2 separate regions of the Homo sapiens genome follow, and region 1 is linked to region 2. Evidence: fine-mapped QTL for protein levels in blood plasma. A gene starts in region 2. The other region holds a variant in brackets. All regions are shown on one strand. Distances are from middle to middle.

Region 1 (5,385 bases), 60 kb before region 2:
ATATACTCCTAAATAAATTTGCATCCTCATAGAATTGGAGCATTTGGAAGCACTGCACTTAATTCATGGATTTAATAAGAGAAGCATTAACACTGTACTGAATTTCTCATTTTATCAAAAAGAATTCTTCATAAAATGCAAGAAAAAATACAAAATTAATTGTGAAAGGTCATTAGATGAGGGCCAACATAGACTAAATGTTTTATAACTTTAGGCCTGATTTACATAGTAATTTAAATTTAATCATTCATGTTCAAAAGTAAATTGTTCTTTGGAATTAAGGTACATTGTTTATATATTTAGTATATAAATGTCAATTATCATACATAAAAAAAAAACGCTTGGTAGGTATTCATTAACTACCTCTCCTTAAGAATAGACTTATAATGGAATATTTCTACATATATGTATTGTCACAGAAAGTTATGCATGCTAAATATCTTAGCCAAAAGGATTTGGGTTATGATTGCCTTGACTTTTGTATATAGACAAGAAAATATGTGGCTATATATAGCCATATGCAGAAAATTGAAACTGGATCCCTTCCTTACACCTTATACAAAAGTTAACTCAAGATGGATTAAAGACTTAAATGTAAAACCAAAAACTATAAAAACCCTAGAAGAAAACCTAGGCAATACCATTCAGGACACAGACACAGGCAAAGATTACATGAGAAAAACATCAAAAGCGATTGCAACAAAAGCAAAACTTAACAAATGGGATTTAATTAAATTAAAGAGCTTCTGCGCAGCAATGAAACTATCATCAGAGTGAACAGAAAACCTACAGAAAGGGAGGAAATTCTTCCAATCTATCCATCTGACAAAGGTCTAATATCCAGAATCTATAAGAAAATTTACAAGGAGTAAACAATCACATTAAAAAGTAGGCAAATGGCATGAACAACATGACTCAAAAGAAGACATGTATGCAGCCAACAAACATGAAAAACAGCTCAACATCACTGAACATTAGAGAAATTCAAATCAAAACCACAGTGAGATACCATCTCATGCCAGTCAGAATGGCAATTATTAAAAAGTCAAGAAACAACACATGCTGGCAAGGCTGTGGAGAAAAAGGAACTTTTTTACACTGTTGGTGGAAATGTAAATTAGTTCAACCATTGTGGAAGACAGTGACTCCTCAAAGATCTAGAACCAGAAATACCATTTGACCCAGCAATCCCATTACCGGGTATATACCCAAAGGATTACAAATCATTCTATTATAAAGATACATGCACACATATGTTCATTGCAGCACTATTCACAATAGCAAAGACATGGAATCAACCCAAAATGCCATGCCCATCAAGGACAGACCAGATAAAAAAAAAATGTTGTACATATACACCATGGAATACTATGCAGCCATAAAAAGGAATGAGATCATGCCCTTTGCAGGGACATGGATGGAGCTGGGAGCTATTATCTTCAGCAAACTGACACAGGAACAGAAAACCAAACAGTGCATGTTCTCACTTATAAGTGGGAGCTGAACAATTAGAACACATGGACACAGGGAGGGGAACAACACACATTGGGGCCTGTCAGGGGGTTGCGGGGAGGGAGAGTATCAGGATAAATAGCTAACGCATGCAAGGCTTAATACCTAGGTGATGAGTTGATAGGTGCAGCAAACTACCATGGCACACGTTTACCTATGTAACAAACCTGCACATTCTGCACATATATACCAGACCTTAAAATAAAATAAAATATAAAAAATAGAAAATATATGGCTATATATTTATAGTTATATATTATGAATATATAACATGACATGCTATATAATAAATTATGACATAACATAATATTCCATATTATGAATATATTATAAAACAATTTTCCAGGCAAAAACTCCATAGTTCCAAATAGATCTCCTTCACTTACATAACAAACTATCAGCTAAGTTTTTAGAAACATTGATATTTACATAAAATGTAATCCTTAAATGATAATTCCTAAAATTAGAATAAATATGAATGGGTTAATCAGTTATTAATAATTCATCTTTAATACTAATAACTCATTTATCACCTTAATGCTCACAGTAATTAATCATACTTGAACAATTTTCTTAATATGGAATGTGTTTTAACTGTACTTTCACGTACATACATACGTATATATTTAATCTGTTTTTATTGATATGTCTTGTTTTCTAGACTAAAATTTACATAGTATGCTAATAAACATGTTCTACGTGTTTACTGGCCTAGTTTTCCTACTAGGTTTTAAGGTATTCAAGGATAGAATAAACATTTTCAGTTCAGTTTCATTTTGTAAACACTTACTGTGTTCTTTCTACAGGAAGGAAAACTGGCTCTACCCTAGAACTTACAGAAAGAAAACTAGCCCTACAAAAAGATAATGTTATTATGGGATGGTAACAAGTAATAACAGAAAGGTGTATAAGTGAAGCAAAAATGAGGGTAACTTGCTCCAGGTAGTTCCATGGGAGGCTTCAGAGAAGAACTGGTTCTAGAGGTGTACCCTGAAGGCTAAGCAACACTATCTTGGGAAAGAAATATGAGGAGGGCAGTTTAGGCCAATGCAAGAACATAAGTGGAGATTCAGAGACATGAAAAGAGCATGATGTACGTGGCATAATCACAAGTACATGGACAGAACATGCTACAACATGCTTGATGTGGTGAGTGGCCAGAAATGGGGTTGAGAAGGGGATGGCATTCAGGACATCAAAGGCATTGTGTGCATCTTATTCTTTTAGCCACAGGGAGAATTTTGAGCAGAGTTGCATCTTCCTGCTAATTTATGGTTGCATCTCAGCACCTAGCACAGTGACTTGCTTGCAGTTCTTCTAGCAATGTCAGAGATTGTTTCCTCTCCAGTCATAATCAATCTTAAGTGTTAATAAAATACAGAAGACTGTCAATGCAAATGATATTCAGACAAAACAGATAGATAAATTTTCTAAAACAAAGACAAGAACACTGAATTATATCTGAAACTAGGTCTCGATGAATAGCACCGAATGAACCAATAAGTGAGCATGTGTCTACGGGAAGGACCACATGAGTATGAAAGAAATGACTATGAAAGAATACTAAAAAGAAGAAAATCAAAGAAGAAGGAGAAGGAGAAAGAGAAGGAGAAGAACAAGAATAAGAAGAGAGTGGCACAAGAATTATAATTCGAAAGCAGTTCGAAGAGTTTTTCTGGGTCAGATTTTCATTGATAGCCCATCGTCCATGCTGTGGGACGGGTGACACAGGAACCTCATACCTGGGCAGGTATACTTCTACTTTTTGCTTCTTCACAGAGTTTG[C/T]CCATTCTTCAACCAGCTGTGCTTTGACTAATGGCTCCAGAGTAGCAAGAGGAACTTCCTGTCTGGACAGCACCAGCATCATGCTTATTTCATCTCCTTCATATGGTATTTCTAGGACTTGGTAGATACCACCAGCTTCATTGGAGCCATCACTAAATTCCCCTAAAAAGAAAATAAAGGCCATAAAAGATGCCTATCAAAGCTTAAAAAAAGCTGGGGGCGAGAGATGAAAGACTACATATTTGGTATAGTGTACACTGCTCAGGTACTTGTGCAACAAAATCTCACAAATCACCACTAAAGAAGTTTTTCATGTAACCAAAAACACTTGTTCCCCAAAAGTATTGAAATAAAATCTAAAAAAAAATAAATAAAAAGGTTTAAATTTGTTATATATGTTTCTTCCCAAATAGTATATAGAATATAAAGAAATTCAAGCATCTGATAAAAAGCAGGTTTATTTGAAAATAGGCCCTAAAATTCAAATAAGTTCACAGCCCTGTATAATTTATTTTATTTTAGAATCCACAGAATTATTTCACATTTATAATAACATGTATTCAAGACTTGATTTTTATTTTTAAATGAGATAATTCAATATATCTGAAGTGTAGCATTAGAAACAATGAAAAGCCCTGGTTAGAAAAATAAAGCCTTGGCTCCAAGTTGACTGCAAAGCACATTGATCAATATTCACCTGATTTTTAAGAAGGGAAAATTTGACCATTTAATACCTGGCACTTTATTATCACAAAAACTACAAGTTTTAAAGCAAAGTTTGCAGAGTCAAAATGAAATCTAAGCATTGTATAATATTTAGCTATTATATTTGTGAATATTGATATCTCCAAATTAGGTAATTAGGTAAATGAGGCAATTGGCTTTGTGCTCTATGAACTTAGCCAAATTAACACACACACACACACACACACACACACACACATACATATGGCCAAAATGAACTATATATATATACACACAGTATATATAGTTTTATCTACATATAAAACCTGTATGTATATAATTTTAGAGACAGGGTCTTGCTCTGCCACCTAAGCTGGAGTGCGGTGGTGTGATCATAGCTCACTGCAGCCTCAAACTCTTGGGCTCAAGTGATCTTCCTCCTTCAGCCTCCCAAGTAGCTAGGACTATAGGTATGTACCATTATGCCTAGCTAATTAAAAATATATATATATATATATATATTTGTAGAGAAAGGGTCTTGCTGTGTTGCCCAAGCTAGTCCGAACTCCTGGCTTCAAGGAATCCTCCTACCTCTGTCTCTCAAAGTACTGGGATTACAGGCATGAGCCACAGCAGCTGGCCTGTACTGTGCTTTTAATAGAATAAAACTACTAGTACTAACATATACCTGGCTAAAAATTACCTTTCTGATTATGACTTAACAAATTATTACAAGTCAATATAGTGGATAAGAAGGACTAATACCCTAAACTTCTGAAGAGTCCAATAAAACACCTTTGAAAATAATGCCAAAGATATTGAATTATATTAAAAATTATAGGCTCTCAATAAATTAAAGCATAAACAAACAATTATGTTTGGCCATACATACACATGTCTAAAATCAAATTTTTTTAAAAGTCTTTGTATAAGAAGAATGTTTGTAATTTAAAAAGTGGTGCAGAGCCTAAATCAAGTGCTTCGTGGAACATATGGTTCACTAAAACCCATCCTAAACCCAATGAGTTTTTGGAGTAAATCAGAACATTCTCACACAATGTCAGGTATTTTCAGATGAATAAAGCTACTCTGCAGGTGTGGTTGACTTATAAATTTGAAAATACTCTGGAAACCATCAATGAATATAATATTTACTCAGAAACTAATTAGAGGGTTTTTAAAATGGAGCCAAAAAATTGAATTGTAGCCCAAATTAGATTGACAAGGAGTTTGAATATGAATGCTTCATGTTTTTCTTAGAAATCTGTTGATATTCTGCAAGAAGAGAGAAATAAAAGCAAAAAATGTCTTACCATAATAAAATTCTCCTTGCTGATACATCATTGGAATTTGGACTTCACTTTCATCATCTTTAGTGAAAGAAAAGGTTCTAGTATTTTCAGG
Region 2 (5,385 bases):
TGTTGCTTTTCCTTTCTCATCATACATATTCACTGATAGCCATACACAAATAGTAAAATTAAAGAGCAAAATAAGTAATATGCTTATAACATGGGTAGCATTTTACACAGAATTATAAACTGCCATATAACGAACGTTTTCAACACCAATCAAGAAAAATCTTCAGATTACCTGAGATTGAATGTGAATATTAACTAACATGAATCAAGAGTGCAAGGTAAAAAATAAATGCCATATATTTCCAATGATATTCTCTCATATAAAAACATGGTCTTTTTTCAAATGATATTGAAACCCAATCTCTTTTACTGACACAGTAAAAAGGATCCAAATCTTGGAAACAGGTGAAAAAAATCAGTACTTTAATACCACAAACTCATTCATTCCTAATCAGATTCTATCCTTTACCGTGTCTCAGAGCAGAAGACCTATAAAGAGCTGAGATTCAAAGTATATCTTAATTTCAACTGTTTAGATATTTATCTTCTATCCATTTGCTTGCTTATTAACTGTTTCCCAATAAAACTCTTTCAAACAGATCTTTTAATAAAGGCTCGGAAAGAATTTCATTGGTAGTATTATAATTATTACATAGGGGAAATAACCCAGCGACAGCAATTATTCAGTTTTACAAAATGAATTAGTAGTAGGGTCTGAGAAAGAATCTAAGACTGATTCAAGACAATCCACTTAATCACAAATAACAAGGGCAAACACAGTCTTTTCCATGTGTCACCCTAATACCCACTTTTTTTTTTACCCCCAAAATCATTTTCACAGGGCCATATCAGCTATGTGAATTAATAGATTCTCCAGTGCTGTAGCAAAGATAAAACCTGATCCTTATAGTGGTTAAGTTTAGCAGCTACTGTTGCTTTTTCTTTCTTCTAAGCTCTTTGCTGTTTTTGATACTTAGCTGATTTGCTTAGGGGTAATTAAAAAGCAGCTGTTTTTCTATGATCTATCTGTCTATATATTTCTATGGTATGTGAGAGTGTGGGAGGGAAGAGTATACACACTGAAAAGTCACTTAGGCTTATCGGTAGTAGCACTCAGTAGGACTGAACTTTAATCTGGGAAGAGAATTCATTTGAGCCATTTCTTTTCAAAAAGAAATTTGGGATGCATTACAAAAATAAAATTTAAAATCCCGAGAACTCAGGAAAGCATAGAAATAGGAGAAAACAAGACAATTACTCCATTTTATTGACCCTGGTTATTAAAAAAAAACATAAAGTATTGAGACAGACTCTGAAATATGCAACTGTCACAATGAAAGCATTTCAGAGCAAAATTTGCTGCAATATGCTACTATGATTAAAAGCCATGTAATCTGGGAACCTCTGTAACAAAATGAAAATGAACTAGGAAAATAGCTTCTTACTACTTCTCTAAAAATAAAAGGCTGTAATTTTGTCATAATTACACAAAGGTAGGTGAGACTTTCATCTTTACCCAGCATTACAACTTATTTCCATCCATAGGTATTACAATTAACGTTGCTTTGAATGCACATATAGTTTAATACCGAGAATAAACTATTATTTTATGACACTACATGTGTTTTAAACTGAACCCACTATCATAACACATATTAAGGGTAGTCCTTCAGCACATACTCTCTACCCAGAGAAAAGATTCCCACACAGCTTTCCATGTACTCGTTTTTAAAATGTACACATATTATCGGACACAAATGAGAAACTAACGAGCAGCAGTGAGGTACACCATATGTTTCCATTGTAGGCTGAATCCAGGTCTTTGTTCCAATATTCCAGAGCCACTGGGAAGAAAGCTAACTATCCATTCATTAAAATTCATTTTTACATTATTGCTGGCAAAAGTTATACTTTTGATAGATTAAGTCAGAGCCCATCCTATCCTGACTATTCCTGCCTGCACTTGCTTCTTTAATACGGATTTCTTGCAATTCTAGGAAACTGCAAAATAACCACCCTGGATAACAGGTCGGTAGCAGGACAATCTGATAAACCAACGTAAAGGGTAGACACTGAAGAAGAATGCAAAGTTATTTTCCTAGTGAAATAGTTCAGAAGTTATTCTATATCAATAGCAAAATTTTTGCTTTTTATAGGCTACGCACCTATAACATCCACCAGATAACATCCACCTCGTCCTCAATTAGCAGGATTTTTCTCAATCTTCAGATCTCCCAGAACAGTTTTACTGGTGCAACTCAAACCAAAAACACTAACCACGCCCTTTATACCCAGAGTCAAGCTTCCTTTTGCTTTTTTGCCCTTAAAGTCGAAAAATGTAAATCTTTCACCCGAGAGGTTTTGCACCGGTTTCCTAACCCAACGCGGACTCTTTTAGCTGTGTCTTGATGTAATTCCTATTGGAAGACGTTTTCTCCAGGGCAGTGCAGACGCCCCGAAGAAGGACCCACGCTTACCTCCCACACACCTGCAACCCCTGACGGGATGCTGGAGCTTGTGCTCGGCGGACTGTGCTCCGCTCCGCTCTCGTTCCTGCTTTCGTCTCTCCCGGGAAACTACAGTCCAGACTGCGCCTCTGGCTTCTACAGGGACCCAAGCTCCGCCTCTCCCTCCTCTAGTTGGCGAATTTGGCAGCTGTTGCTCCTCCCCCTGCTGTTTCTGCAGCTGCCCGGACCGGAGGCAGCGGAAAGCAGCTGCCCTGGTACCTTTCCGCTCCCTGCACTTCTGCAGCTGCTCTGCCACTTCCACTCCCGTGGGGGTCCCTCTCCCCTCCTCTGTGGCTCACACCTGGAGCGGCCTCCTGCCCCACCCAGGCGTCTCTGCTGGGAGCCCCGGCTCAGCCTATCCTTCCCCGACCTGTGTGTCCGGATGCCCGGTGTGCCTGGGGCTTAGCTGCTCTCAGGGAAGCTGCCCCTCTGCCCAGTGCAAGTCCCCACACCAAGCCCTCCCTTCACCTGGGCGATTTCCCCGAGGCTTCCTCTCCACCCACACGGCATACTCAGCCCGACAGCCCCAGGATCCCCACCACAGGCCCCTCACCCCCTTCCTTCCTCTGCTCTGTCAGCCCGCCCCCTCAATGGGTGAGGCGCCTGCGGGGCCTACTCCGCACCCTGATTGGCGCAGGTGAGGGCTTGCCCCGCCCTTCCTCTCCTTTCCGTGCACCATCTCTCTTCATCTCACCTCCTCCCGCAAAGGCAGGGAATTCTCCTACTATTGGCTAGAAGTGTCACCACCCATCGCCTCAGGATCCCCCGCATGGCCTGCCGGGAAGTGTAGTCTTCCGATTGCAGGAATTGCGGACAACGCCGGCGAGCGGGACTACGAGTCCCCATAAGCCTCTGCACGACTCCGGCTGGGCAGGATTCCGGACAACGCCTGGTTCCTCTTGGGTCCTTCCGGCGTCGCCGGAGTGAATTGATCCGGGAGTTGAAGAGGGCTGCAAGGTGGGAAGTGAAGTCAGTGCCTCAGTTGCTGGTAAGGTGTAGCTGTTCTGTCCCAGTCCCCGTAGCTCTGCACCGAGCAGAAGAGGTCTAGGGTCACGCAGGGGCCATGGCTGAGGCACTTGGGCTTGGTTCTGGCAGGCGGAGCGGACGGGGCTGAGAGCGGGGCCCTACGGGCGTAAGCGAGGTTACCCTACGCGAGTGGCGTAAAGCGGGTTTGTAAATGCCGCCTGCCGGCTTGGGCCCGAACGCCTCCAGGAAGTCTCCTCTAGGTGGGGGCGGGAGGGGAAGGGCGAGGTTGGCCCCTGGTGCCCCGGGAGAGGGGACAGGGCGGATGTGCCTGGGGTGGGGTCCTTTGAAGGTGTGGCTTCGGACCGAGAGGTGAGGCTGCTGTTTTCCCCCTGCTTTGTAAGTAAGAGAAAAGGGAGGAGGAAGGAAAGGGTGCTTGGGAGTCGGCTCTTGGGGGTGACTCGGGTTATGCCCTTTGAGGGAAGAGGAGCACTGGAAGAAGGAAGAGACAAATGTTGGGGTCTACGGATTCAGTTCCAGTTTAATGATGTGGCCCTCTAAGGAGATAATTTTGCCTTAAACAGAAAGACTTGACCCTCTTAGGTGTCATACCTAAGGTATGTTTTTACTCCTTTACTGCTTTCAGAGCGCTTTCATTTTGGGATGCTGATGAGGAAACCGAGGGATTATATGACGTGCCCAAGGTCACACACGTAGGGACAGACTTTCTGAATCTAGTTCGGTTCGAGTCCAGCTTTAGAGTAGGGACGTTGGTTGTGCTTTTTGAAAAGGGTGGAGGAAGTTACAAAGTAAATGTATTTTATATAGTATATCTAAGAAGCCATTGTGAGATAAAAAGTTGTTTCTTGAACCGGAGTGAAATTCCTCAATAAAGGAAAGATCCTTTTGGAAAAAATAAAAATGGCCAGTTTCAACTTTTACAGATTTTTCCCCTTTTTTTAGGGGTGTATTAAATGATAGACTCTACTCTCACAGTTCATTTTTACGGGTAGGTAATAGGATGGGAGAACAACAGTTAAACAATATATCCCATCCTTAGAAGAATATTCTTTTCTTTTTCTACCTTAGGACTGTTTTTACTCTCATTTTGTAAAACTGATAATAGTGGGATTGGAATTCTTTCACAAAACTACACTTTTTTCAAATAATGTAGCGTTAGGAGAGTTTAGTGTGCCCATTACTAGAAAAGAAGGTATTTTGCATTTCTTGGAGGTAACATCGTCTTTTTTGAGACTTTACTTTTCCCCCATTTTCTTGACTCTGGGCTGTATTTGTGTGTGTGTCTGCAAATAATAAAATTGGGCTCTTGCATATTTTTATTTTTCTTAGCATCAACTGTGACTTTCAATTCATTCTTACTTTACATTGAAGAATGAAAAAACAGTACACGTATAGTTCATATCTTGCAGAAAGTAGTGCCTTTATGCAAGTCTTATCCTCTATAATGATTATGACCAGTTATAGCTCATGACTATTATTATTGGATAAGTTTTTAATAGAATTGTTAGAGTATGTTCATTGATGGCAGAATTTATTTGTGATAACTTTATATCCATACAGGTTAGCATGTAATAAATCATGGCTTACTCTTAACATGTAATAAATCATAGCTTACTGTTTTATATATAAGTTGATCATCAGACTATGCTGAATTTTGAATGTACTCTGCAGTTACTATATTATCAACAATGTGCTTCACTTTTTAATGGAAAAACATTTTTTCGGAACAGAGGTATTATCTTCCCTGATGGTTGAAATTAAGATGGTCTGGAAATTAATACGATTTTTAAAATAGAAAAAGTATGATACTATAGAATGAAGTAAAATCAGGAATAATGTACCATAAGTAATGTAGTACACAGACAAGGAAGACCCAGTTAAACAAATGGAAAATTATGTGGTGATAACTGACTTTGTGCTGGATTAAGAAAGGTGCAGTGATGTAAGTAGACCGT

Direction of the effects. Alleles are on the strand shown, and positions count from the first base shown. The strength of an association depends on the size of the effect and on how common the allele is.
For the plasma level of the protein whose gene starts at base 2,519 in region 2, allele T in region 1 goes with a lower level than allele C (moderate association).

Evidence for each region. PIP is the posterior inclusion probability: the model's chance that the variant is causal. Protein levels are from antibody-based Olink assays in UK Biobank. Linkage for the fine-mapping came from a reference panel and not from the study's own genotypes, which makes the PIPs less certain.
Region 1: its variant is fine-mapped to the plasma level of the SERPINI1 protein (UK Biobank, PIP above 0.99). The variant lies in the coding sequence of SERPINI1. If it changes the protein, the assay may bind it differently, which can mimic a change of level.

What each region holds. Positions count from the first base shown.
Region 1 is chr3:167,792,694-167,798,078 of GRCh38, reverse strand. It overlaps SERPINI1 (serpin family I member 1), which reads right to left. Exons shown (of 9, transcript NM_001122752.2): 4 at 5,295-5,385; 5 at 3,255-3,459. Among named protein-coding and RNA genes, the nearest start is that of SERPINI1, 60 kb to the right of the region's middle. The variant C/T (reference allele first, on the strand shown) is at 3,298.
Region 2 is chr3:167,732,855-167,738,239 of GRCh38, reverse strand. SERPINI1 (serpin family I member 1) reads right to left here and starts at 2,519. Exons shown (of 9, transcript NM_001122752.2): 1 at 2,417-2,519. PDCD10 (programmed cell death 10) reads left to right here and starts at 3,348. Exons shown (of 9, transcript NM_007217.4): 1 at 3,348-3,578; 2 at 3,890-4,026. RefSeq lists an enhancer at 3,097-3,536 and a silencer at 3,587-3,716.